Homo sapiens: one gene and its partners. The protein of the gene in region 2 purifies or fractionates together with the protein of the main gene of each other region. This does not show direct contact. Each region holds a gene or a part of one and is shown on either strand. Other genes may lie near its edges. The genes, in order: PC, CLSTN2, CUX1, LMAN1, SLC12A7, ZMYM1 and NUP37.

Region 1 (4,127 bases), on a different chromosome or scaffold from region 2:
CAATAAACCGGACCCCTGCATCCTGGCAGGCCTGGGCGAAGTCCGCTCGCTCAGAGAGGAACCCGTAGCCAGGGTGCACTGCATCTACGTTGTTCTCCTGCAGGTGGGGGTCAGGGAGAGGACGGTACCTTGCAGTCCCTTCCAAGGCCTCGGCCAGCCTCTTCCCCTGCCTAACCTGCTGAGCTGCATCCGTTTACCCACCCACGCACAGAGGCGCTGAGCACGCCAGCCTCAAGAGACCCCCGCGGCAACTAAGACTCCCTGGTCCCTGCTGTCCAGGCCCAGCCAGGCCACTGGGCTCACCTTGGCCACCTTGATGATGTCTGGGATGTGCAGGTAGGCCTGCACGGGGGCCAGGCCGCGGCCGATGAGATAGGCTTCATCTGCTTTCTGCCGGTGCATCTGGCCCGTGTCCTGCTCAGAGTAGATGGCTACGGTGCGGATGCCCAGCTCCGTGCAGGCCCGGAACACACGGATGGCAATCTCACCTAGAGGGCAAAGAAACAAGAAGTTAGATTCCTAGGTCCTAGGAGAAGCAGAAAGGGGAGTGGGAAGCCAGGGCCTGGGGCAGTGAGTGGGAGAAGAATGCCAAGGCTGGGGCGGCCATGAGGCTCCTCTCACCGGCCCCACTGGTGCTCACCTCTGTTGGCCACCATGACTTTCTTGATGGGCTTATACTCCAGGCGCCGGACATTTGGGGAGGCAGCGGGGGCGGTGGAGGTTCGGCGGATTCCCAGGAGCCTCAGGCCCCCATGGACTGTTCGGAACTTCAGCATCTAGGGAGGGAAGTTAGAGCCCAGGTTAGCGCAGCCTCAGCACTGAGGCTCCTCAGAATGAGTGAGGGCCCTTCCCAACCCCACAGTGGCCCCACAGAAAGGCTAGCACCATCTACCTCCTGATGCCTGGCCAAGCCCAACATTTCCTGGCTCTAGAGAAGGGAGCAAATCCAACCCCAAATGGAACCCCCAGCTCAGCCTGATATCCTAACTGTGACTTTATTGTTGTAGAGACAGGGTCTCCCTATGTTGCCTAGGCTGGTCGCAAATGATCCTCCCACCTCAGCCTCCTGAGTAGTTAAGACTACAGGTGTGAGCTGCCGTACCCAGCATAATATGCACTATAACTTTTAAAAGTATCAGGTTGGCCCACCCTGGCTAACACGGTGAAACCCCGTCTCTACTAAAAATACAAAAAAAAAAAAATTAGCCGGGCGTGGTGGCGGGCATCTGTAGTCCCAGCTACTTGGGAGGCTGAGGCAGGAGAATGGCATGAACCCAGGAGGCAGAGCTTGCAGCGAGCCGAGATCGTGCCACTGTACTCCAGCCTGGGCGACAGGGCAAGACTCCGTCTCAAAAAAAATAAAAGTATCAGGTTGGGCGCGGTGGCTCATGCCTGTAATCCCAGCACTTTGGGAGGCTGAAGTGGGAGGAGCACCTTACATCAGGAGTTCGAGACCAGCCTGGCCAACATGGTGAAACCCCGCCTCTTACTAAAAATATAAAAATTAGCCGGGCATGGTGGCACACGCCTGTAATTCTAGCTACTCAGGAGGCTGAGGCACGAGAATCGCTTGAACCTAGAAGACAGAGGTTGCAGTGAGCTGAGATTGCGCCACTGCCCTCAGCCTGGGTGACATCAAGACTCTGTCCCAGGAAAAAAAAAAAGTATAATACTTCAGGTTGGGCACGGTGGCTCACACCTGTAAACCCAGCACTTTGGGAGGCCAAGGCACATTTGTGTGAGCTCAAGAGTTTGAAACCCACCTGGGCAACATGGTGAAACCCTGTCTCTACAGAAAATATAAAACTTAGCCAGGCATGGTGGCACATGCCTGTAATCCCAGCTACTTGGGAGGGTGAGGCATGAGAATCACTTGAGCCTGGGAGGTGGAGGTTGCAGTGAGCTGAGATGGCACCACTGTACCAGTCTGGGTGACACAGCAAGACTCCATCTTTAAAAAATATATATATATTATATATAATATATTATATATAAAATATAAAATATTATATATAATATAATATAAATATATATAATATATTATATATATTATATATTATATTATATATAAAATATATATTATATATAATATAATATATAATATTATATATATTATATAATATTATATATTATATTATATATTATAATATATATTATATATAATATTATAATATTATATAATATTATATATATATTTAAATCAACTGACGACAACTTATATCCCTGAATGCAAAGAGGCTTCAGAGGTTGGCCAGCCCTTCATTTGTAAAATGAAGGAAACCAAGGTACAGTGGAGACTAAAAAGACAGCTGCCCAGCACAGAGCCCAAGCCAAACCAGACACACTCTTTTCACCCCTGCATCTGGGCCTCATCTAACCATCTGATTCATTTCTTTCTTTTGAGACGGAGTCTCGCTCTTGTTGCCCAGGCTGGAGTGCAATGGCATGATCTCTGCTCACTGTAACCTCTGCCTCCCAGGTTCAGGCAATTCTCCTGCCTCAGCCTCCCAAGTAGCTGGGATTATAGGCATGCACCACCATGCCTGGCTAATTTTGTTTTTGTTTTGTTTCTTTTCTTTTTTCTTTTTTTTTTTGAGACAGAGTCTTGCTCTGTCACCCAGGCTGGAGCGCAATGGTGCGATCTCGGCTCACTGCAACCTCCGCCTCCTGGGTTCGAGTGATTCTCCTGCCTCAGCCTCCCGAGTAGCTGGAATTACAGGCACCCGCCACCACGCCCAGCTAATTTTTGTATTTTTAGTAGAGACAGGGTTTCACCATCTTGGCCAGGCTGGCCTCGACCTCCTGACCTCAGGCGATCCACCTGCCTTGGCCTCCCAAAGTGCTGGGATTACAGGTGTGAACCACCACGCCTGGCTGTATTTTAAATAAAGATGGGGTTTCACCATGTTGGCCAGGCTGGTCTTGAACTCCTGACCTCAAGTGGTCTACCCGCCTCGGCCTCACAAAGTGCTAGCATTACAGGTGTGAGCCACCACACCCGGCCGATCTGATTCATTTCTTAGAAAACGTTTAAAACACTTGACTCAGCCATTTTGTTTTAAGTAAGGAACATAAAAACATACTCAAGAAATGAAACAAATATTGCAAAAACCTTAGTGCCATATTACAGCCAACAACCTAGAAAAGGGGAAATAAAGACAGAAGAAAAAGAAAAGAGAAGAAACAAGGAAATAAGTAGAAGAAAGAGAAGAGGAGGAGGAGGAAAGACCCACAGCCAGGGGAGAAAAACAGAAAACCCCACTAGGGGCAGACCTTATGCCAGGCACAGTTCTAAGCCTTAGGAGTCGAGAACACAACAGTGAAGGGTTCTGCTCATGGAAGATGAATGGCAGTGAAAGGAGCAAAGAAAAGAAAAACAAGACACAAATCAGAACATTTCAGATCACAAGTGCCTGGAAGATAAGAAACAGGTGACATTTTGCGAATGATCTGGGGCGGGTGCAGGGGTTTGGGGGCTGGATATTAGAAAAGGCCTCTCTGAGGAGGGGACACAGAAGCTGGGACCTGGATGGGGAGAAGTCGGCCACGCACAGATCCGCAGAGAAAGCTCCAGGAAGAAGGGATAGCAATTGTGAAGTTCTCAGGAAGAACAGGCTTGGTGCTGTCCTGAGAGAGGGAAGTGTGAGCCCACGGCCTGAGGTGGGGCTGCAGCCACAGACAGGGCCCAGTGGTTGAGGCCTCCCTTCAGCCATGGACAGGACAGGAGGGACATGATCGATGCACAGTGGAAAGGATCTCTCTGGACTGGCGAGCAGCAGGGGCTGACAGACGACGCATGTCTGGGGCAATTCAGAGGCTGAGCTGAGAGACGCGGAGCCTCTGACAGGGGGAAGCTATGGGGGTCGGGGTGGGGCTTAGGAAACATCTGGGCTATGACAGACAAGATTCGTCGAGAGACCCCCCATAGAAAGCAAGGTAGAGGAAGAAATCCTGTATGGGTGGGTGGAGATGACTTTTCCTGCTATAAGAAGGGCAAGACAGAAAAGGCAGGGCTGGGAGTGAGGCAAGCTCACAGAGGGGGAAGAGCAGGGACAAGAACCTGGGCAGCATCACAGGGGCGGTGGTGTCTGAAGCCAGGGAGAGAACAGCCTGGGAGAAGTGGGTCA
Region 2 (4,742 bases):
TGTCAGAAAGCTTGACTCCAGACTCCCAGTGTTTTTCTACACATGAATACAGAATTGTACGAAAGAAGTATCTGGTTTTTTGTTCAATCTTCACACGCCTTCCTGATTTTTTTTTTTTTTTTTTTGTGATGGGAATAACAATGGTATGAACCTTAAAAATGGCAAAGTCAGAGGCAGGGTGCATTATACACAAAACATACAGCTTTATCATTTCAAACATTCTTCAGAGATCATATGATTTGGAAACATAAAATGCAAGTGCATTGTTATAAGGAAAGTCAGTCCTGTAAATACTAACTAAAGTGTCATAATAAATGTCTCTGTTGTAATCAAATATTACACATTTATCTTGAAAAAAAAATCAGCAGCAAACAGAGCTCTTTGCAGCCCCCCAGTGGTTGGAAGGGGAAAGAAGCGAGAACAAGGGGAATTCGGACAGTTAACTCTCAATCTGCAGGGCCAATAAACTTTTTACCCTGGAAAAACAAATGTCTAGTTTGTTTGTTTGTTTGTTTGTTTTTGAGACGGAGTTTCATTCTTGTTGCCCAGGCTGGAGTGTAATAGCGCGATCTCGGCTCATTGAAACCTCTGCCTCCCGGGTTCAAGTGATTCTCCTGCCTCAGCCTCCCGAGTAGCTGGGATTACAGGTGCGTGTCACCACACCCATCTAATTTTTTTTTTTTTTTTTTTTAGTAGAGACGGGGTTTCTCCATGTTGGTCAGGCTGGTCTCGAACCCCTAACCTCAGGTGATCCGCCCGCCTCGGCCTCCCAAAGTGCTGGGATTACAGGCATGAGCCACCATGCCCGACCTGACAAATGCCTAGTTTTAACCAAAAAATGAATATGTTCTAAGTCGGATGTTGGTTAAAATGCACATAATTATCCACATAAAGTGAATCATTGAAAGCCTGGGGTTTTTATTTTCCTTTTTTATCTCTCTCCTTCTCTTTCTCGCTTACCTCTATGAAGCTTCCCATTCTGACCTGAGAACTCAGCCGTGCATTATTACTACTCACACCAGATCCTCTTCCCAAATGATTTCTTCCCTGTTCTGCACTTGCTGTGTGCTTCTCACCCTCCTTCAAACTCCCGTTTGCAGACATCTGCTTATATCAATTACTGTGCTACAAAGTGATGGGAAATCTCCTCCCCCCCACCCCCCAAAAAAGTAATTTGCCTGTTTAACAAAGTGTCTATATTGGGAAAGCAGGGGGGAGATGTTTGGAAGTTCATTGTTTTTTATTCTTGTCTTCACCAAAACAACAGTCTCTCAGCTTGATCCCTTCATATCAGCCACTTCTTTACCGCACTCTGAGATATTTTCATAACGAGTTTTTCTCTCATGAAATTTCTCATTTCTAAAAATAGAAACTGCCTGTCAAAGATACACCAAGAAAAAAAATGCTGAAAAGAAACAGAATGCCTGCTTATAAAATATTTTCAAAACGATGACACCAAAAAATTTAAAAATTACAGATAAACATAATCTCCCATGTTCTTCTCAAATATATCACTCCTAAGTTATTGGAGGGCCAGTTTCTAAAGCCCAGACAAGGCGAACTGCCTGCCTCCAGCTCTCCCCAACCTCCAAGAGTAATGCAGCCTGATAGGCATTTCCTCCCCTAAGCTAGTGGTCAAGTGTAGCTCAAAGCAAGCGTCCGAATCAGGCTGTCTCTAACAGGGAATCTATTTTCTGACAGGCGCAAACCCCTCCGCCCTCTGATGATTGCCAGGCAGGATTTGGGGACCAAGTACCCCTCATTGTCACCTGGCGGATTTGGCCACAGTCCACAAACCAAACGCAAGCCCTACTTATGAACAGCGCAGAGAATCAACAAGTTATCACTAAGCTGTGCGCCCCAGCTAGGATCTGCCACAGCCTCCCCTGAGCCCACCACTGTTCCCCACCAGCTCTGCTCTTCCCTCGCCTCCCCACCCCCTGCAAGCACGTGACCTCCTGTTTCAGACCCGGCCCCCCACCCCAGAGCTCCCGACGCTCCCAGGCAGCTGTCAAAGTCCGGGGTTCGCCGGCTTCCAGGCTCGCCTGACAGAGCCAGGCGTTCGCTTGGATCTAGCTTCCTTCCGGGCGGGAGGCGCGGGGAGGTCAAGCTCTTCAAAGGAACAGGGTGGGCAGGGGAGTGGTGCCAGGTTAGGCTCCTCGGTCCTCGGTAGTCAGAGCGGAGTAGGAAAGGCAGCGGGGAGCCTCACATCCCGCGCTTCTTCCGGACCCCGCCGCCTACCCGGAGGGTACACGTTCCCCGGGGAGTCAGAGACGCCCTGGGGGAGCTTGAGGAGTGTCAGCGGGGCCTTCCCTGGAGCCTACAAGTTTCCACTCCATCCCCGAGCTGGGAGACAAGTCACAGCTCGGCTCCCTCCTTGAAAGCACCGCCGCTGATCCTTCCCCCAGGCAGGAGCAGACACCTGCTTGTCCCCACGGCGCGCCAGCGCCCTGCTCTAGCCGTCCCTGGGCCAGAGCTCGAAACTCACCCACTGCGCTCCCACCCCGGCACAGACAGCCCTCAAAGTTGTCCGTACTCCCCAGACCTCGCCTTCTGCTCAGCCCCCGGACCCCGCCCAGGGGTTGAGTTGACGTCCGCGGGTGGACCTCTCTGGTCCGCTGCGCAGGGAACTGACTTCGGGAATCCAGGGCGCACAGAGGCCAAAGAAGCTGCGGCAAGGGAGGGTGGGCAAATCCAGCTTGAGCCTAGGTCCTTGCCGCTTTCACCCTCAAGCCTGCCCTGCCTCCCTCCTGGGAGAAGAGCAAACTTCCCCAGCACCCACCTTTAGCCGCGAGGAGGCGGCGCTGCCGGCTGTCCCCGCCACCGCCGCTGCCGCTCCCCACGCCCAGCGCCAGCAGGAGCGGCACCCAGCACAGCCGCCCAGGCAGCATCCTCGCAGCAGCCGCCAACGAGCTGCAGCCGCCGCCTACTGTCCGCGCCGGCTCTCGCCTCCCGGTGCCTGCCGCACCGTGGGCCGCCTCGCCGTGCCCGATGGGTGCGCTTCTAGCGCTGCCGCCGCGGCGCTCGGCCTCGGGTTCCCGCCGCTGCGCCGCTAGCTCGCCGGCAGCAGCCGCGCTCACTGGCGCGGACCCGGAGCGGCTCAGGCGCTCACCCCGGGACGGCCCGTGACGTCACGGAGGGAGGGAGGTGGCTCGTGCATATTCATGAACGCGGGCATCGGCGCCGGGTTCCGCGCTCCCCGCCCCAAGGCCCCGACCCCCAACTTTCCTCAGCCGTCTCCACGCTCCGGGGCCCTGTCCAGGTCCCCCTGCCCAGTCGGGACCGGGCCCCCAGAGGACCCTGGTGGGCGGCTCCGGAGAGCCCTCCAGCCCCGCGCCTCCACTCCGACTCTCGGAAAAGCTGCCGCAAGGGATGGAGGGCTCCCCCAGAAAGTGGCCACCCGAGGCCTGAGGGTCATCTGGGGTGGCGCGAGGGACCCTGACCTGCCATGCCCTTTGAACTGATATCTGGGCGGAGAGGACTGACGGGCGTCGCTAAGGGTCTTGCCCTTGGCTGGGTCTCTGGGCGTTCTGCGTCGACTGGTCTGGGGAGGGCGCCAGGCGCACACTAGAGCAGCGCCTAGTGGTGCTAGGGGTTGTCGGGCAGAGTAGATAGCCTTGGACCTGGATGGCAATGGCAGGGCTCCGCGTCATCTCCGAGAAGCAGGGGCAGCCGCGGCTCTTAGAGGCTGATAGAACAGCTAGATCAGAAAACTTGGGGTGCTGGGCCTGCTGAGGCTGCAGTGGCGGGGGCGGGGTGTCAAACTTAAAATTCCCTGCGGTATGGTGCCATGCAAGAAGTTGCCACCTTTATGTTGTCACTCCGCATCTCTAAGAACAGGCTACTTGACGTCATGCATTGTAAAATCTCGTGCCGTTGAGTATTGTCAGTTCCCTGAGTGCAGGAGCCAGTGCATATCTTTGCATCCTCAACCATCTCTAGGCCGTGAAAAAATTACAAAGGTACTCAAAAAAAAAAAAAAAAAAAACAGTAAGGACTCAGAATAAATCCTTGACCATATTTACCTAAATGAAATGCCAACATCACACACAATGCAGGGTTTATGAGGAATAGTTTGGAAATAAAGTAGATATGGAAATACAGAAACAAACAATATTATTTATTTAGTCATTGATTCAAGACGTTTGCTGAGCATCTAGACAGGCTGTATCACCCTGACAGTGAGCACTGGATTAGTCGTTGGAGATCCAAAGACAGAGGAGAGAGTGGGTCCTATCCTCAAAGCTTTTGTTCCCTGCTTGGGGAGCCAGAGAGGGCAGCAAAGGCAATTACAATCCCTTGTAAGTGTTATGGTCCTGCACATTCTTTATGTTGCTAGCTATGAGCCTATACAAATCAATTAACAAAATGTATATATTGCAAGAGTGCCTAAACAGCATCCTCTAATTAATAACTGTAGTTTGAGGTACTCAACAAAGCCATAAAATCCATTAACAGCACTCCTGCAGCTCAGCCTCCCTCTGCTGCCCTGGCAGCTCACTCAGAGCCTCTGCAGTGGTGAAAGCCAACTCTTCAGGATTTCAGGCACCAGGATGTGCTTGGGGACAGCAGTGAATCATGGTGGCTGCATGGGGCTCAGACCCATGTGGGGCTCTTTACCTTCAGGTCTCCTTTAGCCCACAAATCAACATGTGCGCTATTATTCTCATTTCACACATGATGAAATAGAGGCTCAGGGAAGTTAGGTAACTTCCTTGTTCAGGGTCAAAAATCTAGTAAAT
Region 3 (4,127 bases), on a different chromosome or scaffold from region 2:
ACAGGCCCAAAACAACAACTCAACAAAGGTGTCTAAAAAGAGTGGAGGCCAGGCACGGCGGCTCACACCTGTAATCCCACCACTTTGGGAGGCCGAAGGGGGTGGATTGCTTGAGGTCAGGAGTTTGAAACCAGCCTGGCCAACATGGTGAAACCCTGTCTCTACTAAAAACACAAAAATTAGCTGGGCGTGGTGGTGCACACCTGTAATCACAGCTACTCGGGGGGGCTGAGGCACGAGAATCACTTGAACCTGGGAGGTGGAGGTTGCGGTGAGCGGAGTTTGTGCCACTGCACTCCAGGCTGGGCGACAGAGTGAGACTCCGTCTCAAAAAATAAAATAAAAAGAGTTGATATTCGTTCTGTCTTAAAGATATTAAACTATGTTAGAGAAAACAAAATCATGGCAATTCATTAGGGAGAAAGCCCCAGTTTAAGAAAAATTGTCTTGCTTTTGGGGGGAAATGGAAAGAAGCTTTTGTGTTGCATTTTGTTTTTCGGTTTGGTTTGGTTTGGTTTTTTCATATGCTGGGTGGACAGGATCTGAATGTCTTACATTTAACAAAAAGCTGTCAACACCCAGATAAATTTTTAATGACGGTACGACAGGCATTCTATTTCTCACTGTTTCGCAATACTCACTTAAGAAAGAGCTAATTTGTCAATTTGTTTTTCCCTTAACCAAACTCGGAACACCTCATAACCCATGGTTTACTTGTTAAAAAAATGTTAACTGCATTTCCTTATTGAATAAACACAGCCCAATAGAAAGGTATCTATAAGAAAACAAGCAGTGTGCCAGCATCCACTCAAAGTAACCCCAAGAAAGAACAAGCCACTTCCCTGGTGTCTCAGAGTAAGCTCTGTTAATTTCCTGCTTTGTTAACTGCATCAATCACACACGGTCAAGACCATCCAGACCATCCAAGATCTCAAGCTTCGGCTGATGGAGTCGGCCAGGGCCCGGTCCACTCTGGGGGGTCGTGTGCTTTATAAAGGTTCGGACCCCTTATTGGGCTCATTTTCACAAAGGTTTTCATGAAAGGAAGCAGAACCAAGTCAGTTTCACTTACTAGGAAACTCCCGGCTGGCTAGTTCTTGAGTTGCTGGCAGTGTTAGTAAATCCCTAGGAGGAACACCACCATCCTTGGCTCCGTTCCAGTCACCTGTGTGATTATGTTTCTCTGTGTAGGAAGACCCCTGAGGGTGGGATCTGTACCAGTCCTGCTTGTGGGGTCAGCCAGGGATTGGGCGACGAACTTTGTGGCCACAGTACCTGCACTTCCCATGGCCCGAGGCTCTAATCAACACAAAATTTCTGCCAACGGTCCTGGGCCTCCTGCAGTTAGGAAATGCCGTTGGATTAAAATAAAGAAATTGACAATCTTTATTTTGTGCACTAACATCATCCTCTCTGAATTTAATTACAACAAAATTAAAATTATTTTTATTAGAGAGGCATTAGCTTTTTAAAGGGAAGGTTCTTGACAGGTTTTACAACAAATTAGATGTCTTTTTTTTTTTTTTTTCTGAGACAGAGTCTCGCTCTGTCACCCAGGCTGCATGCAGAGCAGTCACACGATCTCAGCTCACTGCAACCTCCACCTCCTGGGCTCAAGCAATTCTCATGCCTCAGCCTGCCGAGTATCTGGGATTATGGATATGCGCCACCACGCCAGGCTAATTTTTGTATTTTTAGTAGAGATGAGGTTTTGCCATGTTGGCCAGGCTGGTCTCGAACTTCTGACCTCAAGTGATCTGCCTGCCTTGGCCTCCCAAAGTGCTGGGATTACAGGCATGAGCCACCGTGCCCGGCCTTAGACGTCTTTCGAAAAGAATGGTTCACCCTCACTGTGTAATACCCGAATAGGGCAGCACAAATGCTTTTTAAAAATCTTTTAAGTCACAAGCCAGGTGCTTCAAAGCTGTTTCAGGCGCAGGACAAATGAGGGGAACGGCACAGGTTCCCCTCAGTCCTGGTTCATTTCCTGCAGGGAAACCTCCATCCCCGCCAAAGACCACTCTCCTCCATCAACCTTCTCAGAAGACAGCAGAGAAGCTGGACTGATTACAGCTCAGCAAATCCAAAACTGCTCCATACCAAACCTTAGCTGTCCTCAGCAGGAAAATCCAACACTGACACACCATCGAAACTTGGTTCTGAAACACATCCCAAAACCAGGGTGATCGACAGCTTTTCAAGACCACGCCTTGAAAACTGGAATGGGTCAAATAACACAGTCAATCCAGAGGGCCCTGCCATTAATATTTAAGAAAACATCGGCCGGGCACGGTGGCTCACGCCTGTAATCCCAGCACTTTGGGAGGCCGAGGCGGGCAGATCACGAGGTCAGGAGATCGAGACCATCCTGGCTAACACAGTGAAACCTCGTCTCAACTAAAAATAGAAAAAATTAGCCGGGCGTGGTGGCGGGCGCCTGTAGTCCCAGCTACTCCGGAGGCTGAGGCAGGAGAATGGCGTGAACCCGGGAGGCTCAGCTTGCAGTGAGCCGAGATCGCGCCACTGCACTCCAGCCTGGGCCACAGAACCAGACTACATCTCAAAAAAAAAAAAAAACAAAAAAACAAAAAAACTAGCCAGGCATGGTGGCGGGCGCCTATCGTCCCAGCTACTCGGGAGACTAAGGAAGGAGAATGGCCTGAACCCTGGAGGCGGAGCTTGCAGTGAGCCGAGATCGCACCACTGCACTCCAGCCTGGGCGACAGAACCACGTCTCAAAAAAAAAAAAAAAAAAAAAAAAAAGAAAAAAGAAAAAAAGAAAAGAAAAGAAAATAGGGGCCGGGCACGGTGGCTCACGCCTGTAATCCCAGCACTTCGGGAGGCCAAGGCGGGCGGATCACTAAGTGAGGAGATCGAGACCATCCGGGCTAACACGGTGAAACCCCGTCTCTACTAAAAATACAAAAAATTAGCCAGGCCTGGTGGCCAGCGCCTGTAGTCCCAGCTACTCGGGAGGCTGAGGCAGGAGAATGGTGTGAACCCGGGAGGCGGAGTTTGCAGTGAGCTGAGATAGTGCCTCTGCACTCCGGCCTGGGCGAAAGAGCGAGACTCTGTCTCAAAAAAAAAAAAAAAGAAAGAAAATATCCCCCTCACCAAGTTAATACTTTTATGGTTGCTGGTGGAGCTTATATTCTCTAAATGTAGAATTTTTTTGGGGGCGGGGGGGAGTATCTTCTCTCTGAATTCTATATCATTATTGGGGTATAATAAAATGTACCTACATGCTCTGGTCAGTCAAGGTTCATCAAGTCAGAAATCACAAATGAATTCACAAATTCTTTGCTCTAAAGTCATATAACAATGCAGATATTAAATTGCTTGTCTAACTATACCATTAGATTCCTTTTTCACTCCATTATCGGCACACACACACACTTCTCTCGGCATCCAGGCATTCACAGGTATCCAGTTCCTAAAGCGCCCAGCACGACTGCTTTGTCCAGGTAAGCAACAGTGGGACATAAGGAGAGGCTGTGGGGCCCCTCTTCAAATAGCTTCGACAAAACGAATGGCTATAAGTGAAAAGTGTCCCTGGGCTTTGCTATAAAAAGACTCAAACATGGGATTCCAAGAATTCCACCTGTTTCCAATTAGATACCAGAATTGCTTGAGTGTTTAAGCTACACTCGCTTGCTACTTACACAAAACAATTCTTCCGGGTTTTGTGAACATTTTAAATATGTTAAAATAAGATTAAGGGTCTGGTTTAAACAATCGGAGGCAGGGAAATTTCGGTGGAAACCAAAACTCTCTCTCTGCAGCGATAACGCGGGGCTTCAGACAAAACAAAAGGACAAGACAGACAAATTTCTGTCTTTGACAATTATAATAAAAGTCACTTTTCATAGAGCAATTACATTTTTTAAAGTTATGTATTCAATAATTTTAAATAGGTCTTAAGTAATTTCTACAATAACTCACGATCCTGGATCCTGTATATTTGAATAATGGTTAGAGTTGCCTTTTACATACCATTTGTGTTACAATTCGTCAGATATACCTGTCTGTGAAATTTACATGTGACAAATGTGTAAACTATTTGAAATGGAAGCACGGGTAGGAATTTAACCTACCTCTGTAGGATTCTTCATATGATGAATTTCTCT
Region 4 (4,599 bases), on a different chromosome or scaffold from region 2:
TGTTTGTTTAACAAATATTTATGGAATCTTCACTCTGTGCAAGGCATAGAGCTGGTTGCCAGAGCAATGAGAGAACCAAAGAAAATAAAATGATTAAATCCTATGGGTTGAAAACCATGGAGAGTCCAGGGCAATGACGCACATACACCATACAGTGGATAAATGTTTGTTACTGCTGCTGCTGAGATAGCAGTAAGTATGGTACTTTCATTTAAATTACATCTCGAGACTAGCAGGCGGAAAGCCTTAAATCCATATTCAACTTGAAGGTTTTATTTGAGCACTAGAAAGAGATTTAACAGTAATGGCCCATGAATCCGAAGATGGGATTCAACTTCCAAAACTGGGAAGTTAATGAAAAATAAGTTTAAGTAATGCGGGTATTGAGTCCCTAGGGCTAGTGTGGCGTTCATGTAGCCCACACGAACAGAGCTAATAAAAAGCCATGTGTAAAAACAATATAAATCATACTGCTGTTTCTTGGACTTGAAAAACTCATCATGACACATTTTTGAAAAAACAAAACTTTGGATTACCATGAATATTTTGACGATATTTTTTCCTAAGCAAGGGAAAGAGGAGTCCCCTTTAAAATATAGAACGTATTCATTGAGTGGAAGACCGATCCTATATCAAATGTCCAGGTTCTACAGACGCCTGGGTCCATAGCACATTATCCCTCTCACCAAAACCAAACCAAACCAAAGTCAGTTTCATTTGAATGCACTCTTGCCATGGTTTCAAAATTTGGAAAGCTCTTGGAATTAAATTTTGAGATGTAAAGGCTGGCTGACAAATTCACAGAAACCCTCTTTCCGACACCAACTTATAAATCCTAAGGCATCCTACAACCCCGTGGGTGCTGGTTTCTAGTTTGCAACGCTCTAACATAGCTTGGTAGAGCTCAGTGGGCTGGGACCATAAGCATTCGGGATTGTGCCACTGAAAAACTGATGTCACATCAAAAGGAACACCTTTCTTCTAATATACTAAAAAGGTTTTGTACAGGCTGGGTCCAGAGGTCTTAGGGCTAGCCAATTCCTGCTCCCAGGTATTCTAAGAAGCCGGAGAAAGCTCCCTGCAGGTAAGGACCCATCGGCGCTTCCCGCACTCTGCCGCGCGGGAAGCGAAGGTTGGAGTCCTTTCCCCACCCCCGGAGGGTGGGCGGGGCCGAAGGACCGCACCGCCCCAGACCCGCCCCCTGCGCGTGGCCCCGCCCACAGCTGCTCCTGGCCGTGCGGCCGCGCGGAAAGCGGAGGCCGGGGGCGGGGCTCACCCCTTGCCCTTGGGGGTCCCCCGGGCTCTGCCAATCAGCGAGCGCCCTGTTGGCCATCCGCAGCCATCCGCGCCCCTCCCTCTCCCGCCCTCCTCCGCGTTCCAGAATCCAAGATGGCGGGATCCAGGCAAAGGGGTCTCCGGGCCAGAGTTCGGCCGCTGTTCTGCGCCTTGCTGCTGTCACTCGGTCGCTTCGTCCGGGGCGACGGCGTGGGAGGAGACCCCGCGGTCGCGTTGCCACATCGCCGTTTCGAGTACAAATACAGCTTCAAGGGGCCGCACCTGGTGCAGAGCGACGGGACCGTGCCCTTCTGGGCCCACGCGGGGAGTAAGCCGGAGCAGAGGGCTGGGGGCCGGGTTCCTCTCCCCCTTCTGCTGCCTCTTCGCCTTTCATCCGCGGCTACCCTGGTGTGCTGAGGTTCCCGTTCCAGCAGCTGCACACCATATGCGCTGTGGAGGGGACCCTCCTGGCAGCCCCTCCGCCGGGTCCCTCCTGGTTCGCACGGTTCCCTCCGCTTGTCCCCGAGTCTTTCCCTCACCCATTCTGTTCTCTCTCACCCGCCTGCTGTCTTCCCTTCTTTGATCTCGTCGGTACTTTCCGTTGGATCTAGAGGTGTTTGGTTACCTCCTACACTTCCTAGCACTCAAACTTGCTTCTAGGTATCATGTTTCACAACGCCACGTCTCTAGGAGAAATGTGCCCTACCCCCAGCCATCCCAACCTGAGACATGTTCTAGAAGCCCCCTTACTTCCTTTCCCGCTTCCACCCCCCACCCCCGATCCCCGATTTCTTTGCTCCGGTGTTAGCAATGGTTAATGCTTCGCTTGAACCCCATGCCCACTGACGGCTCCTGAGATGGCATATAGTAGTATTAGAGTAATTTTTTAAGTCTTTGTATGTCAGAAGACATTCTTATACTGTTGGAACTACACATTTTCCTCTCAGTGACTTGGTGTGGTCTTTGATCTTTTCTCTCGTAGTAACACATTATGTAACTTTTTAGGAGAAGGGATATATTTTTAGGGATTGATTGTTTCTGAACCTGAGACTAAGAATAGCATTACATTTTTAGCCCTTTAAAAAAATTGGAAGCATTGAAATAATCTTGGGTTCATATTTTATTCACTCTCTGTGTTTGGCACTTTTGTAGATAAGAGAGCCTTGCTAGAGCATTTACTTACGTGAAAGAAAACATATCTGCACTTTTTAGTGCTGATGTGTCACTGCTGACTAAGGAGTCAATCGTAGCACTTGGCATGACATAAGCTCTGTTCAGTGACCATCAGATATACCCGTTGAACAAGTGGCAAATGCCTTTATATGAGATGAGGAGCTCTGGCAGTTTGAATTCTATCTTTGTGTGTGATTAATCTTTTTTTTTTTTTTTTTTTTTACTATAAGGTTTAGGGTACATGTGCACAACGTGCAGGTTGGTTAGTATGTATACATTTGCCATGTTGGTGTGCTGCACCCATTAACTAGTCATTTAACATTAGGTATATCTCCTAATGCTATCCCTCCCACCTCCCCCATAAGTAATCTTTTATATAAGGTTTTTATACATCACTTTAGATTATCCAGTTCTTGAAACAAAATGTTTCATTTCTAGAAAGTAATTACTGAATAGGAAGCACCCTTTTAGGAAGCGCTATTTCTCTCAAATTAATGTGTAATTGAAAGGTATAGATTTTAATTTGACTTAATGACCAAGTCATTAAGTAGTTGAAGTAGAGTGCAGTTATTTCGTTACTCAGCAGTCATTTATTATGTGCCCATGCAGCAAGGGTATATTACTGGGCATTTGTTATCAAGGTATCTCTATTCTTGATACACAAAGGTGATGCAAATGATATCAAACACAAGTTTTTGGAGTTTTTGTTTCTATTTGTGGGATGATGAATTATTCAGTAGTGATGGATTTGTTCACACATTTTCACTTCTACACCTCTCCACTGCCTGCCTGTTCTTCTATCCCTTTTCTCTTTTTCTCACACTCACATACACTACATTAGCCAATTAGGAATGTTAATCAACTAGTCAAATCAGCTACCTTGACTTCCTTTACAGAGCCGGAACCAACTAATCTATTCTGCTGCAGAAATGTCAAGATAATGTACCAGTAAATTAAAGCCGTGTGGCTAGAATGAATTTGAAACAAAGTATTAGTATTTTAGCCATGATTTATCTGGCTACTGGCTCTGGGAATCTCTGCTATAGACATCCCTTGCTTTCATTGTCACTGTAGTTTTTGCATAAGCCTCACTGTAACTACATTGATCATTTTTTTCTTTTCGTTTTGCTCTGCAATTCATTACTTTAAAAAAAAAGTAGAGAAATTTAAGATCTAGTTTAAACACAGCCCTTTACCTTCAACCCCAAATTAAGACCAAATCTATGGTGTTTCTCTTTCTTAACTCTAATGTTCCTTTAGTACACTTAAGGCCATAAGGGCAAAAAATGATAATTTGTAACCCTTTATAGCTCTCAGAGTTCTTTCACTTTCATTCTCTGATTTGATCCTTAGTAGACAAGGCGGGTGTTATCTGTTTTATAGATGAAAAACTGATGTTCAGAAAGGTTAAGGTTTTTGAAAAAGGATACATAAGTAGTAAGTGTCAGTGAAGTTGAACTCAAATCTAGGTCTTCTGATTCTGTGTTCAGTCTCTTTCCATGATGCCCACACCCCATCCTTTGAATGTTTGTAAGTAACAGTGAACAGTGACTGATCCTACTAAAGTATCTCAGCTTTCCTTTTTGTCAACTTTTTTCTACCTGTAAAGTGAGATTACAGTTACAGTTGTATTTCCCAGCATGGGTTTCAGAATTAGTTAATATCTGAGAGCTAGAATTGTTCAAATTTTAAGTCTGATAGACCTTTAGTAATTACCTAGTCTAATAATAGGAGAAATAGCTAACATTTATTGAAACATTTAAAGCTACTTGTGTAGGCACTTAAATACCTATGAGGCTGTTCAAGAAATGGAGTAACTTGCCTACAGATCAAACAGCTAGTAAGTAGTAGAGCTGGGGCTTGAACCTAGCCTGGAGATGTAAACCACCGTTTTAGGGATCACTATTTTCTCTGAGAATCTTCTGAAGAATTGCTTTTTGAAGTTCAGTTGACCCTCTCCATGGAAGAATGTATATAAGTACAGTATTTTGCATATAACTTTTAGGGTGTTTATGGAAGTGATCGAGCCTAGCTCCTTCATTTTACAGGTAAACATATGGTGAATCCAAGAGAATAAGAGAATTATTTGCTCAAAGTCACACAGCTGAACTGAGACTAGGAACAAGTCTCTTGATTCCTAGTGGTATGTTC
Region 5 (4,127 bases), on a different chromosome or scaffold from region 2:
TTTTGAGAGTAGGAGGTGGGAGGACACTGCTGGGGGCCGGCTGCGTCTCGTCCGACTTCAGGGTAGAGTGGGTTTTGTAACTGACTTGGGGGAGCCCACCCTTCCTCCGTGACCACATCAGGGTAGACTCACTCCTTCCCAGGTTGTAGGGGTGCGTCCAGAGGCCTCGGAGACCCTGGGAGGGGTGGGAAAGGAGGGCTGGCCAGTGCCCCGGCCTGTCTGGAAGGTGCAGCGTGCAGAGCCTCTGTCAAGGTCCCACAGGCCCTGGCCACCCACTGTCTAGGAGGGACTTCCACTCGTCTGGGGCTCCCTGGGCTGGGAGAGGGTGGGTCCTGCCTTGTACCCCCAGGTCTCCCACCCTCAGCTGGGGCTCTCCCAGGTTTGCCGGGAGCTTCTTCCTGGCTTGGGCGCCACTTCCCTCTTTGGGTTCCGTTTCTGAGATTTTCCACTGTGGCTGAGCTCGTGTCGGTTGTCCAGGGGCGGTCCTGCCTCCCTCTGCCCCTGGCCGCTGACAGAGGCCCGGTTGCGTGGTCAGTGGCCTGCCCGTCCCTCCTGCTCCAACTACCTACCGTGTCCGTGTTGGGAGCCCCCTCCCAAAATCTGAGGACAGCTAGAGCTGCCGCTTTGTCCTGGGCCGTCCTCGCCTGTCGGGTGCTGGGTGCCATGCTCTGCACTGCCCTTGGGAATGGCGAGACGGTGCACGCCGGTCGTGCTGATCTGGGGTCCCCTTTGGGGATGCAGGGACTTGGGGGATCACGCATTAGATAGGGGGACCACACACAGAGCGTCCAGGTTCTGTCCTGCCGAGTAGGGACAGAGAGCTCTCGTTGTGCCCAGATTTCAGGAGGGCGTTCCCGACACGGACATGGGAGGCAGTCGGAGCAGGAGGGACAGGCAGGCTGTTGACCCCGCGGCTGTGCCCGGGAGCCCCTGCAGCAGCTGGGCACTGCGTTGCGGGAACGGAAGGTCATGGGTATGTGGTGAGCAGGCAGGGAGGCTACAAGACATGCATTTTGTGTATCGAGTTCCCTTTTTAAAACCAAAGGAAACAAGATACACAGGAACGCCGTGGCTGCTGGGCATCCAGGCCGGGGCCTGTGCTTCCTCCTGCGCCTGACATACTCCCAGGCTGTCTCCCGGCAAGAGGCTCTCCTTAGCAGGCATGCGGTAAAGCATGGTGCTTTAGGTCAGCTGGCCGGGTCCATGTGTGCGGGCACCTATGTGCCTTGTGAGCGTGCAGGTGTATCCACGTGTGAGCCATGTGCTTGCACTGTGTATATGTGCACATATATGTACACACGTGTGCATACATGTGTACTGTGCTCTTGCACAGCTGTGTGCTGTGGGCATGCTCACGTGTGTGTGTGTATGTGTGTGTTTGTATGCTGTGGCAGGTAGAGAGGGGCTGGGGCTTCCTCCACAGCAGAGGGTCACGCGGTGTTGGGTGTTGGGTATCCGTTCCCTCCCCCTGGTCTAGGCCCATCAGTGAGTGGTGAGGGGCTCCCTCTCCTGGTGTGGCCTCGTGTTCAGGTCTGAACCTGCTCCTGGGCCTCTGATCATATGAGGAGACCTTTGCCTCGTGGACTCAGGTTCATGGTTTCCTCTTCTGCAAAGCTCCCCAGGCTTCTCTGAGTGGGCGAGGCCAAACGGATTCCACGGTGGTTTTCTGTCTAGCGTTGGACACCAGATCCCCTTCTTAGAGTGCGTGGCTTTCTCAGTGCCTCTCCCGTGGTCTGGATGGCTGTCGGGAAGGTGGTGCCAAGGGGAGGGCCAGGTGCTCAGGCCTGGGTGCAGGGCGGCTGGTCGGGGCCGAAGTCACACAGGTTTGCTGGGGATCGGTGAATGTCGGAGACCTTGCCAGGTGGTGGCTGGAGTCAAGCAGAGGCACCTGAGGGACCCTGAGGGTGAGTTGGGGGCTGTCCTCCCCTCATGCCCGGCAGTGAGTGGGCCGTGGAGTGAGGCCACCTCTGTCAGGGCCTCTGCCCTTTGGACGTGGGGCCACGTCCTACACAGCTCCCTGGACCTGACCCAGGGATTCCCAGATGGCCCAGGCTCCTGCATGGGGGATGGGTGGCCTTTGTAAAGCACAGAAAGCGACCCAGGTGGGCCTCAATCACTTGAGAGGTTTATTTGCCGAGGTTAAGGCTACGCCTAACACAGAACCACGGGGAACTCCTGTGGTCCGGCTTTTCTTCTCAAAGAAGGCTGAGAACTTGAATATTCAGAGAGTAAAGCGTGAGTATTAGGGGAAGAAAGAAAGAGAAAGAAGAGGGAGGGCAGATAAGAGGCAGGCAGCGTTTGATCAGCGTTCACTGAACCCGTGTGTTACACATGGGGGTAAAGGAAGAACCCCTCACGGCTCACGCTTAGTGACTCTGCACATTTACCTTCGACACAGTCAGTACAGGGTGGGCGAAGCAGTGAGGTGTGCGTTTGCCTCCGGCGAGCAGAGCAGCAACTCCTGGTTCTGTCCTTGGTCCCACACCCGTGAGGATGAGCTGTCATTTCCACCGTCAGTGTGAGTTTCATCACAACTGCTTTAGTGTAAGGATCCTGTGGGTCCTAAAATATGAGGGAGGCCTGCAGCTTTCTACACAGGAAGAAAATGGAAGGCAGCTTGCGTGACCCGGTTCCCAGCCTGACTCTTGCCTGTGGCTTAGTGTGTTTGGGTCCCGAGATCCTGTTTTCCTTTCATACCTTGGACCAGGGAGCCTTCCCAGGGCTGCTGTCCTTGGGCACTGCAGACACATCCCGACGTGGCACCGCTGGGCACAGCACTGGGAGTGGAGGTCAGCCCAGGGTGACCCCCCAGCTGTGAAGGGCACGAGTGGAGCCGACACCCCAGGGATGGATGGCGTCTGTGAGGCCAGCTGGCTGCCCGGAGGGCTCTCCTGTTACCATCCCTGTTGGAATATGAATTTTCTTTTTTTTTTTTTTTTTTTTTTTGAGACAGAGTTCACTCTGTCACCCAGGCTGGAGTGCAGTGGCACAGACTCAGCTCACTGCAACCTCTGCCTCCCAGGTTCAAGCGATTCTCGTGCCTCAGCCTCCCGAGTAGCGGGGACCACAGGCACGCACCACCGCGCCTGGCTAAGTTTTATATTTATAGTGCAGATGGGGTTTTGCCATGTTGGCCAAGCTGGTTTTGAACTCCTGGCCTCTAGTGGTCTGCCCACTTCGGCCTCCCGGAGTGCTGGGATTACAGGAGTGAGCCACCATATCTGGCCAGAATATGAATTTTCTAAGCTGTGCCTTAGACCGAGGTCTGGAGGGCAAAGTTTGATGTTTGACGTTAAGTATTAACCACAGTTCCTGGCTGGGTGCTTTTGATTTCAACCGGCTCCATCAGCTGAGTGTTTCTGAGGGTGGATCCCAGAGTCATTTTGTGACGGCCGTGTGGTGGGTGGGGCAGGAGTCCCTGGGTGCTGGGGAGTGTGAGGCCCGCCAGGGCCTTGAGGGGTAGACCTCCCCCTCCCACTGTGGGGCATGGGAACCCCGTGGAGCCCAGTGGGGCTGGGCGTGGACGGCATTCAGGAGTGGACCAGCTGGTCTTCAGGGCAGTGGGCTGGGCTGGGGGTGTCTGGGGCCTGGTGAGCAGCTGGCTGGGGGCCCTCCTGGTAACTGACATGGGGGGCTGGTCTCCTTTGGCCTTCCTTCTCAGATGCTGGGGAAGTGCTGCCCAGGGACAAGGGCAGAGCACAAAGGGTTAATACCTTTCCTTTATGAAGAAAGGGGAAACTCCCTTTTGGGGGCAGAGGCCTGTTCTGTGCAGATAAACCTCTGGCTTCAGCGCAGCAGCCTGAACGATGAGCTCCTGAACGATGAGCTGCCTGGCTGGCCATGCTGTCCAGGCCCTGCCTCTTCCCCTGTTTGTGGCCGCTGACTCCCCAAGGGTCCTGGAGCCTCTGGCCGGGAGTGCCGGGGGGCAGGCCCACGGCAGGGTCCCCTTTGGCTGGTGGGTGACTGCAGGACCTCATCCCTGTGGGGAGGGTCCTTTTGGCTGGTGGGCGACTGCAGGACCTCATCCCTGCAGGGAGGGTCCCCTTTGGCTGGTGGGTGACTGCAGGACCTCATCCCTGCGGGGAGGGTCCTTTTGACTGGTGGGTGACTGCAGGACCTAACCCCTG
Region 6 (4,127 bases), on a different chromosome or scaffold from region 2:
TGAAACTGATACTTTAAAAAGAATTTTTTTTGGCAGTGAATGTATAGCAGGGAATAACATGAATATTAGCACATTTTGGTGCCACTGCCTTGATTTCTGCTAAGGCTCTGACGGTTTTACCCACCATTGCCTTTTTTCTTTTCCAAATTCATTGAAGTGAAATTTGTATACCAAGAAATTAACCATTTCATTGGCATTTAGTATATTCATAATGTTGTGTGACCATCCCCTCTATCTTGTTCCAAAACATTTCCATCACTTCAAAGTAAAACACCTTAAACACTAAGCAGTTTCTCCTAATTTCCCTCTCCCCCCAGTGCCTGTCAACCACCAGTATGCATTATATCTATAGATTTTATCTATCCTGAATATCTCATGTAAATGGAATCATATATGACCTTTTTGTGACAGGGTATTATTACTCTGTTGCTCAGGCTAGAGTGCAGTGACTTTTTGTGTCTGGTTCTTTCCCTTAGCATAATATTTTCAAGGTTTGTCCATGTTGTAACATGTATCAGTACTTTATTCTTTTTGTTAATAGGCGAATAATATTCCACTGTATGTATGTAACACAATGTGCTTATTCATTCATTCACTTACTGATGAACATTTGGGCTGTTTTCATCTTTTGACCATTGTGAATAGTGCTGTTATGAATATGCACGTACATGTGCTTGTTTGAGTACCTGTTTTCAGTTTTTTTGGGTGTTTACCAAGGAGTGGGATTGCAGGGTCCTACCATTAGCTTTGCAACATCAGTTGCAAAGTGATGTTGCAAACATCAACACGGTGAAAAAGCAAATAACATCTTACTATGAAAATAGTTTTGATCTTGGGGACTCCCCCAGGGATTTGAAGACCATATTTTAAGATTCTCTGTCCTATAGATTCTAGAGTTGCTCATGTGAATATGTGATCTCTCATCATCCCTCGGTTTTCACTAGCACCACCTAATAATACAGGCTGGCTAGTCTCCAAAACTACATCTTCAAAGTCAGGCATGGTGGGATTATGTGCCTGTAATCCTAGCTATGTGGGAGATTGAGGTGGGAGAATCTCTTGAGCCCAGGAATTTGAGGCCAGCTTGGGCAACACAGCAAGACCCTATCTCTTAAAAAACAAAACTGCACTATTAGATGTGCTTTATAATCTGTAATGTATAGATGAGAAAATTAAAATTTAGGGAGTATAAATGTGACAGAACTGGGTACCAAATTCAGGTTTTCTTATTTCAAGGCTAATGTTCTTACTCTAATTTGAGAGGTCATTTCATTTATAAAGAGAAGTTATAATTGTGTTTAAACTGTTTAATGATGTCCTTGTTATTTATTCTTAGAGACATTTTAAATCCAAAGGATGTGATTAGTGTCCAGCTGGAAGACACTACCTCTTGCAAAACTTTTTGCAGCCTATCTTGTCTTTCATCATATGAAGAAAAAAGAAAACCATTTGTTACCATATGTACTAATAGCATTTTGACCAAGTGCAGCATGTGCCAGAAGACTGCTATTGTAAGTTCCAATTATAACCTTTACAGGGATTCTGATGATTCTGCTTAAATATCAGAGTTTTTACTGAATCTTTTTATTAAATCCTAGATTCAGTATGAAGTAAAATACCAAAATGTGAAACATAATCTTTGCAGTAATGCCTGCCTTTCAAAGTTTCACTCTGCTAACAACTTCATCATGAACTGCTGTGAGAACTGTGGCACTTACTGTTACACCAGCTCTAGTCTGTCCCACATACTTCAGATGGAAGGACAGTCTCATTACTTTAATAGTTCAAAGAGTATTACAGCATATAAGCAGGTATGAATAAAGACCTATTGTTTCTTCTATTAACTGGCCTATGAATGGTTTCACTCTAGGAAAATGTGGGAAGTAGTTTTTGGTACCCTTTGGAATAATGTCGATAAGTTGATGAAGATGAAATAGAAGGCTTTTAACGGTTTCTTCTTGCATAAGAATTCATGATAAATGCTATATGGAGATTTTCCTAAATAATCTCAGATCGATTATCTCACCTTAAAGAAAAGGCAGGCAGGCTGGAGCCGGTTTATAAACTAGAAATAAGTATAGCAAAAATAACAATAGTCTGCTGGTCAATAAAACCCAAACACAAAAGTATTTTTGTTTTTATTTTTATGTATTTATTTTATTTCTTTCTTTTTTTTTTTTTTTTTTTTTTTGGTGAGATGGAGTCTTCCTCTGTCACCCAGGCTGGAGTGCGGTGGCGCGATCTCGGCTCACTGCAAGTTCTGCCTCGCGGGTTCATGCCATTCTCCTGCCTCGGCCTCCCAAGTAGCTGGGACTACAAGCACCCGCCACCACCACGCCTGGCTAATTTTTTGTATTTTAAGTAGAGATGGGGTTTCACTGTGTTAGCCAGGATGGTCTCAATCTCCTGACCTCGTGATCCACCTGCCTTGGCCTCCCAAAGTGCTGGGATTACAGGCATGAACCACCACACCTGACCTTATTTATTTTTTTTGAGACGGAGTCTCGCTGTCTTGCCCAGGCTGGAGTGCAGTGGCACAATCTTGGCTCACTGCAACCTCCGCCTCCCAGGTTCAAGCAATTCTCCTGCCTCAGCCTCCCAAGGAACTGGGATTACAGGCGTAAGCCACTGTGCCCAGCTATTTATTTTTTTTATTTATTTTGATTTTTTTGAGACGAGGTCTTTGTCAGCCAGCTTGGAGTGCAGTGGCAATCATGGCTCACTGTAGCCTTGACCTCCTTAGCTCAAGTGATCCTCCCACCTCAGCGTCCCGAGTAGCTGGAACTACAGGCACACACCACCACACCTGGCTAATTTTTAATTTTTTTGTAGAGACAAGCTCTTACTATGTTGCCCAAGCTTGTCTTACAACTCCTGAACTCAGCTGATCCTCCTGCCTTGGTCTCCTAAGGTGCTGGGATTACAGATGTGAGCCTAGCCATGTTTTTGTTTTTAATTCCACGTGTTTAACTCTTACACCAAACAATGCAAAGATGAATCAAGAATGTCACATGTGGACAGTCATGGTGGCTTACACCTGTTATCTCAGCACTTTGGGAGACCAAGGCGGGAGGTTCAGTTGAGCCAGGAGTTCAGAACCAGCCTGAGCAACATAGCAAGAACCTGTCTTTAAAAAAACAAACAAAAAATATCACATGCTTTCTCTGAGTCAGTCATAGGAGGAAATAATCCAGTGAGATTAGTATTATTTGTCCCTATTTCTGATAGACAAGCTCTGGGTGGGTGCTTCTGAGAGCAGAGAAAGAGCAAATGAGATGAGGTGGGACTTCTTAGATATGTTGCTTGTTCATATCATATTTTGAGACCCAACTCTATCCCTATACAGACTTCCTTAAAAACAAGCAGTTGGCCGGGTGCAGTGGCTGATGCCTATAATCCCAGCACTTTGGGAGGCCGAGGCTGGCCGATCACCTGAGGTCAGGAGTTGGAGACCAGCCTGGCCAACATGGCGAAAACCCGCCTCTACTAAGAATACCAAAATTAGCTGGGCATGGTGGCAGGCGCCTATAATCCCAACTACTTGGGAGGCTGAGGCAGGAAAATCTCTTGAACCCGGGAGGTGGAGGTTGCAGTGAGCCGAGATGGCACCATTGCACTCCAGCCTAGGCGACAGAGTGAGACTCCGTCTCAAAAAAAAAAAAAAAAAAAAAAAGCAGTTGAAGATGGGAGTCAAAACAAGCCATAATTCAAATAGATCATTTGTGACTCACATCTTTTCTATGGCCCCCATCTTGAGAGTATCCTGCCTTGGGACCAGAACGGAAAGCACAGAAGACTTCTCCCAAAGGCAGGAAATAATATTCCTTTTTTTTTCTTTCTTTCTTTTTGACACTCAATAGGCCTTGTTCTGGGTTGTTTTTTGTTGTTGTTGTTGTTGTTGTTTGTTTTTTGAGACGGAGTCTCGCTCTGTCGCCCAGGCTGGAGTGCAGTGGCGCAATCTCAGCTCACTGCAAGCTCCGCCTCGCGGGTTCACGCCATTCTCGTATCTCAGCCTCGCGAGCAGCTGGGACTACAGGTGCCCACCACCACGTCTGGCTAATTTTTTGTATTTTTAGTAGAGACAGGGTTTCACCGTGTTAGCCAGGATGGTCTCAATCTCCTGACCT
Region 7 (3,500 bases), on a different chromosome or scaffold from region 2:
TATGCAGAACAGCAGATATAATGTAAAAAGCCTAGAGGTACCCTACCTCGGTACCCCTAAAAAGTTTTCTAGCTCTAATTTTTATTTAGGCTTTATATAATAAGTGAGAAAGGAGGTGATATGAGGACAGGTACAATAAAAATGTGTGTGTGTGTGTGTTTTTGTAAGAAATGCATACTAGAAAAGAAAGACTAAGCTAATAGTGTGTTGAATGATCAATTTTTTTCCCAAGATAAACCTTCTAGAAAAGTGGGTGTATAAATCGTGCTTTAAAAATAGCGGATTGCTTAAGAAATATTTATAGAAAAACAGGCAGTGAAAGCTTTTAAGGCAGTGAAGCAAAAATATTATGTAGGAATATTGTAGGTTATTTTTCTGTTTTCTTGCTAAGCTTTCTGTTTCTCTTTCTGTCAGGTTTTAGAGGGCCATACCGATTTCATTAATGGTTTGGTGTTTGATCCCAAAGAAGGCCAAGAAATTGCAAGTGTGAGTGACGATCACACCTGCAGGTATGTTGCTTATGTTATAACCACATTTTTAAATTGCCATTTTAATGAGAATTACATTTTTAAAATGAGAAAAAAAAATGTGACTTTTACATAAATTCTATAGAGTGTTGTAAAAGAAGCATACCTTATTTGAACTGTAGGTATGGCACAAACATGAGTTTCAAAACCAGTGAGATAGTCCTCATCACCATTAATGAAAACTTCCTTGCCTCCCATGGGTGTCTTTTATCTCTTATTTCAGATTTTCACATTTATGAAATCCAAATCTATATTGGACTGGGCACAGTGCCACATGCCTATAATCTCAGCTCTTTGGGAGACCAAGGTGGGCAGATCACCTGAGGTCAGGAGTTAATGACCAGCCTGACCAACATGGCGAAACTCCATTTCTACTAAACATACAAAAATTAGCCAGGCACGGTAGTGCGCACTTGTGATTCCAGCTACTCGGGGGACTGAGGCAAGGGAATCGCTTGAACCTGGGAGGCTGAGGTTGCAGTGAGTCAAGCTTGTTTCACTGCACTCCAGCCTGGGTGGCATAGCGACACTCCATCTCAAAAAAAAAAAAAACACAAACATATTGGATCAAATTCTTCAATATTGGACAAGATAAGTAGGAGTAAAATGCAGTTGTCAAGTTACTTTACAGATGCTGTATGATAAGTTTGTGTGGAATAATGAACTATGACTCTCATCTGCTACATAAGATTGATGGAAAATTTAGTGTTTTGATAAATTCAGAGGTTTCTGCATAAGGTTTTCTTTAGATACAATACATTTAACTATTATGTTCTTCTACCTCACCCCCTAATTTAGAACAGATGAGGTAGCTATAACATTTTAATAGTGTGTAAAGCTGGAGAATATCACAAATAAAGAACAAGATGAAAAGGAAGAATAGCAGGTGGAAATAAGCTGAGGAGTCAGGAGTGAAATGAGTGCATCAGTCATTGGAAGGGTGTCAGTTGCTTCATTTGCTTTAACGATACTGTGAGGGAGAGAAAAACTGCTGCTCTGCTGTTTTGCATAATGTTTCATAAAACTATGCCAAAATCCTTAGTATTTATTAGTACTTATGTACATATAAAACTATGAAATATGTATGACTTCACATTAGAAGTAAAGCTGCTAGCTACTTTTTAAATTTTTAATCTTCTTAATATAGCTCATCTTTTTAAAGTGATAGAGTCATAGGCCATTATTCTTTATGTACTGCCTGTTAAAATTTTCATGTCAGAGATATGAAAGATTTACATGACATTAAGATTCTAGGGCCCCAGGTACTACAAAACCAAGTTTGTATAGTGACCTGAAGAGTAAATGGAATCGTTTTAAGGTAAAAATTCGGTCACTGGAAATAAATAATGGCATTTCAGCTCTTTAAAACATAGATTTTCCTAATCACAAGCATTTGGAATAATGAAACCTGCAAAGGGGAAAAATGAGTGTCTTTGCAAGCCAAGGAATGGCCTCTGAATAGTGAACGAAAGCCGGAGAGACCTAGGATCACACTCAGTAGTCTATGTTTTTGTTTGTTTGTTTTCTTATGACTCTGAGATTTTTTTTGTAAACTAGCAAAATTCTCTAAAAATTTAGGGGACTGACATAGGGTTGCTAACTTTTTATTTTGTCGAATATAAGACTTAAGTTTACTGCCTTCTACCACTATCATTTTGTAAAAGAAAGGACATTATTACTCTAAAAAGTAGGAAAGGAATAACTAAAGAGTAAGTCTTTTAGTTTAAATAAATTTAATTTTTTAAAAACCTGACTACATTGCCTCTAAGTTTCTCATTTTGCCAGACTGGTTGTTGATATTATTGTTCAACAAATATTTGCTTTCCTTTCACCTTCCCATGAAAGGAGATTTTCCCATCTAATTAGCCCTAGCTTTGTGAATTGTTTAGGCCAATGTAGCATTAACAGGTGTGACACAGCAGAAGCTTCAAATGTTTTGCCTGGCTTGACTTGACCTCCTGTGCTCTGTCATTTGCTATGAGATGAGCATGTCCTAGATAGCTACTGATCCCAGAATGAGAAACACGTGGAGCAGATATGGACCCATATGGCATTATGGAAACAGAGCTTCCCATAGACCCATGTGCAAGAAATTTATGCTTATTTCTGTAAACCACCGAGATTTTCGGGTTGATGCACAACATCAAACTAGGAGTATTTTTAGAATTTACAGCTTAGTTCACCAACCAAAAATAAACAACTCTGATTGGTTATTAAAGCCAAACCTCTTAGGCCAAAACCTAAGCAATATAGGTAAGATTTTTTTAAAAACAGAACGTATATAAAAACAAGTTTAAAATGAGAAAGAGTAGATAGTATCATACACTCTCATAGCAAGGAAAGAAGGAATTCTAAGAGGACATATGTGATAATGTAAGATTCTTACAATATCACATATATATTCTTACATTATCACATATGTGACAAGAGAGTATATCATATGAGCAGTTCTACAATATGTATTCTGTACTGTAAAGAGCAGACCCAGTGCTTACTTAAGAAAATTTAAAATAACCTCAATATTTTGATCTATGCATATTTTCTGATGTTTCACTTTGACATTTCCAAGAAAGACACTATATTATAATCAGCTAGCAGAATTTTGCCCTAGGAACACTATTTTAAAACAATCTGTGACCTGAATAGGTTCATGAAATGTATGTGTTGTATTGAAAATTGCCAAATTCTGAATCAAACAGAATAAAGAGTCGTACTGTGAACAAAGGTACCTCTGATAATACAAAATGTTATTATGGAAGATGATAGATTACATTTTATCTAAGACTCCATCTAATTTTACTATTCTATGATCTGTGCAAGTTTATAAGAAAATTGGGTTCTCATTAAAGTTGGTCTTTATCAGTTCCAACACTGCCTTTCTAACAAACATTTTATAATGCCTACCACACCTTTTTAAATGAAACTCACAGAAAATGTAGCCTTCCAAATATATAAGTACAGAAAATTATTATC

Evidence for each region.
Region 1: the proteins of CLSTN2 (region 2) and PC fractionate together in Homo sapiens (co-fractionation; one large-scale study listed by BioGRID). This does not show direct contact.
Region 3: the proteins of CLSTN2 (region 2) and CUX1 purify together in Homo sapiens (affinity purification with mass spectrometry, with the first as the bait; one large-scale study listed by BioGRID). This does not show direct contact.
Region 4: the proteins of CLSTN2 (region 2) and LMAN1 purify together in Homo sapiens (affinity purification with mass spectrometry; one large-scale study listed by BioGRID and IntAct). This does not show direct contact.
Region 5: the proteins of CLSTN2 (region 2) and SLC12A7 purify together in Homo sapiens (affinity purification with mass spectrometry; one large-scale study listed by BioGRID and IntAct). This does not show direct contact.
Region 6: the proteins of CLSTN2 (region 2) and ZMYM1 purify together in Homo sapiens (affinity purification with mass spectrometry; one large-scale study listed by BioGRID and IntAct). This does not show direct contact.
Region 7: the proteins of CLSTN2 (region 2) and NUP37 purify together in Homo sapiens (affinity purification with mass spectrometry; one large-scale study listed by BioGRID and IntAct). This does not show direct contact.

Annotation. Positions count from the first base shown.
Region 1 is NC_000011.10:66,871,384-66,875,510, forward strand, and holds part of PC (pyruvate carboxylase, mitochondrial precursor), read right to left. Parts: intron 777-4,127; coding exon 641-776; intron 489-640; coding exon 304-488; intron 98-303; coding exon 1-97. UniProt on the Homo sapiens protein: Pyruvate carboxylase catalyzes a 2-step reaction, involving the ATP-dependent carboxylation of the covalently attached biotin in the first step and the transfer of the carboxyl group to pyruvate in the second.
Region 2 is NC_000003.12:139,933,524-139,938,265, reverse strand, and holds the start of CLSTN2 (calsyntenin-2 precursor), read right to left. Parts: upstream 3,082-4,742; 5' UTR 2,892-3,081; coding exon 2,783-2,891; intron 1-2,782. UniProt on the Homo sapiens protein: Postsynaptic adhesion molecule that binds to presynaptic neurexins to mediate synapse formation, and which is involved in learning and memory.
Region 3 is NC_000007.14:101,820,308-101,824,434, reverse strand, and holds part of CUX1 (Homeobox protein cut-like 1), read right to left. Parts: intron 1-4,127. UniProt on the Homo sapiens protein: May be involved in intra-Golgi retrograde transport.
Region 4 is NC_000018.10:59,356,035-59,360,633, reverse strand, and holds the start of LMAN1 (protein ERGIC-53 precursor), read left to right. Parts: upstream 1-1,368; 5' UTR 1,369-1,389; coding exon 1,390-1,603; intron 1,604-4,599. UniProt on the Homo sapiens protein: Mannose-specific lectin. May recognize sugar residues of glycoproteins, glycolipids, or glycosylphosphatidyl inositol anchors and may be involved in the sorting or recycling of proteins, lipids, or both.
Region 5 is NC_000005.10:1,105,271-1,109,397, reverse strand, and holds part of SLC12A7 (solute carrier family 12 member 7), read left to right. Parts: intron 1-1,412; exon of another isoform or gene 1,413-1,904; intron 1,905-3,768; exon of another isoform or gene 3,769-3,840; coding exon of another isoform or gene 3,841-3,955; intron 3,956-4,127. UniProt on the Homo sapiens protein: Mediates electroneutral potassium-chloride cotransport when activated by cell swelling. May mediate K(+) uptake into Deiters' cells in the cochlea and contribute to K(+) recycling in the inner ear.
Region 6 is NC_000001.11:35,102,959-35,107,085, forward strand, and holds part of ZMYM1 (zinc finger MYM-type protein 1), read left to right. Parts: intron 1-1,336; coding exon 1,337-1,511; intron 1,512-1,598; coding exon 1,599-1,811; intron 1,812-4,127.
Region 7 is NC_000012.12:102,096,115-102,099,614, reverse strand, and holds part of NUP37 (nucleoporin Nup37), read left to right. Parts: intron 1-414; coding exon 415-509; intron 510-3,500. UniProt on the Homo sapiens protein: Component of the Nup107-160 subcomplex of the nuclear pore complex (NPC). The Nup107-160 subcomplex is required for the assembly of a functional NPC.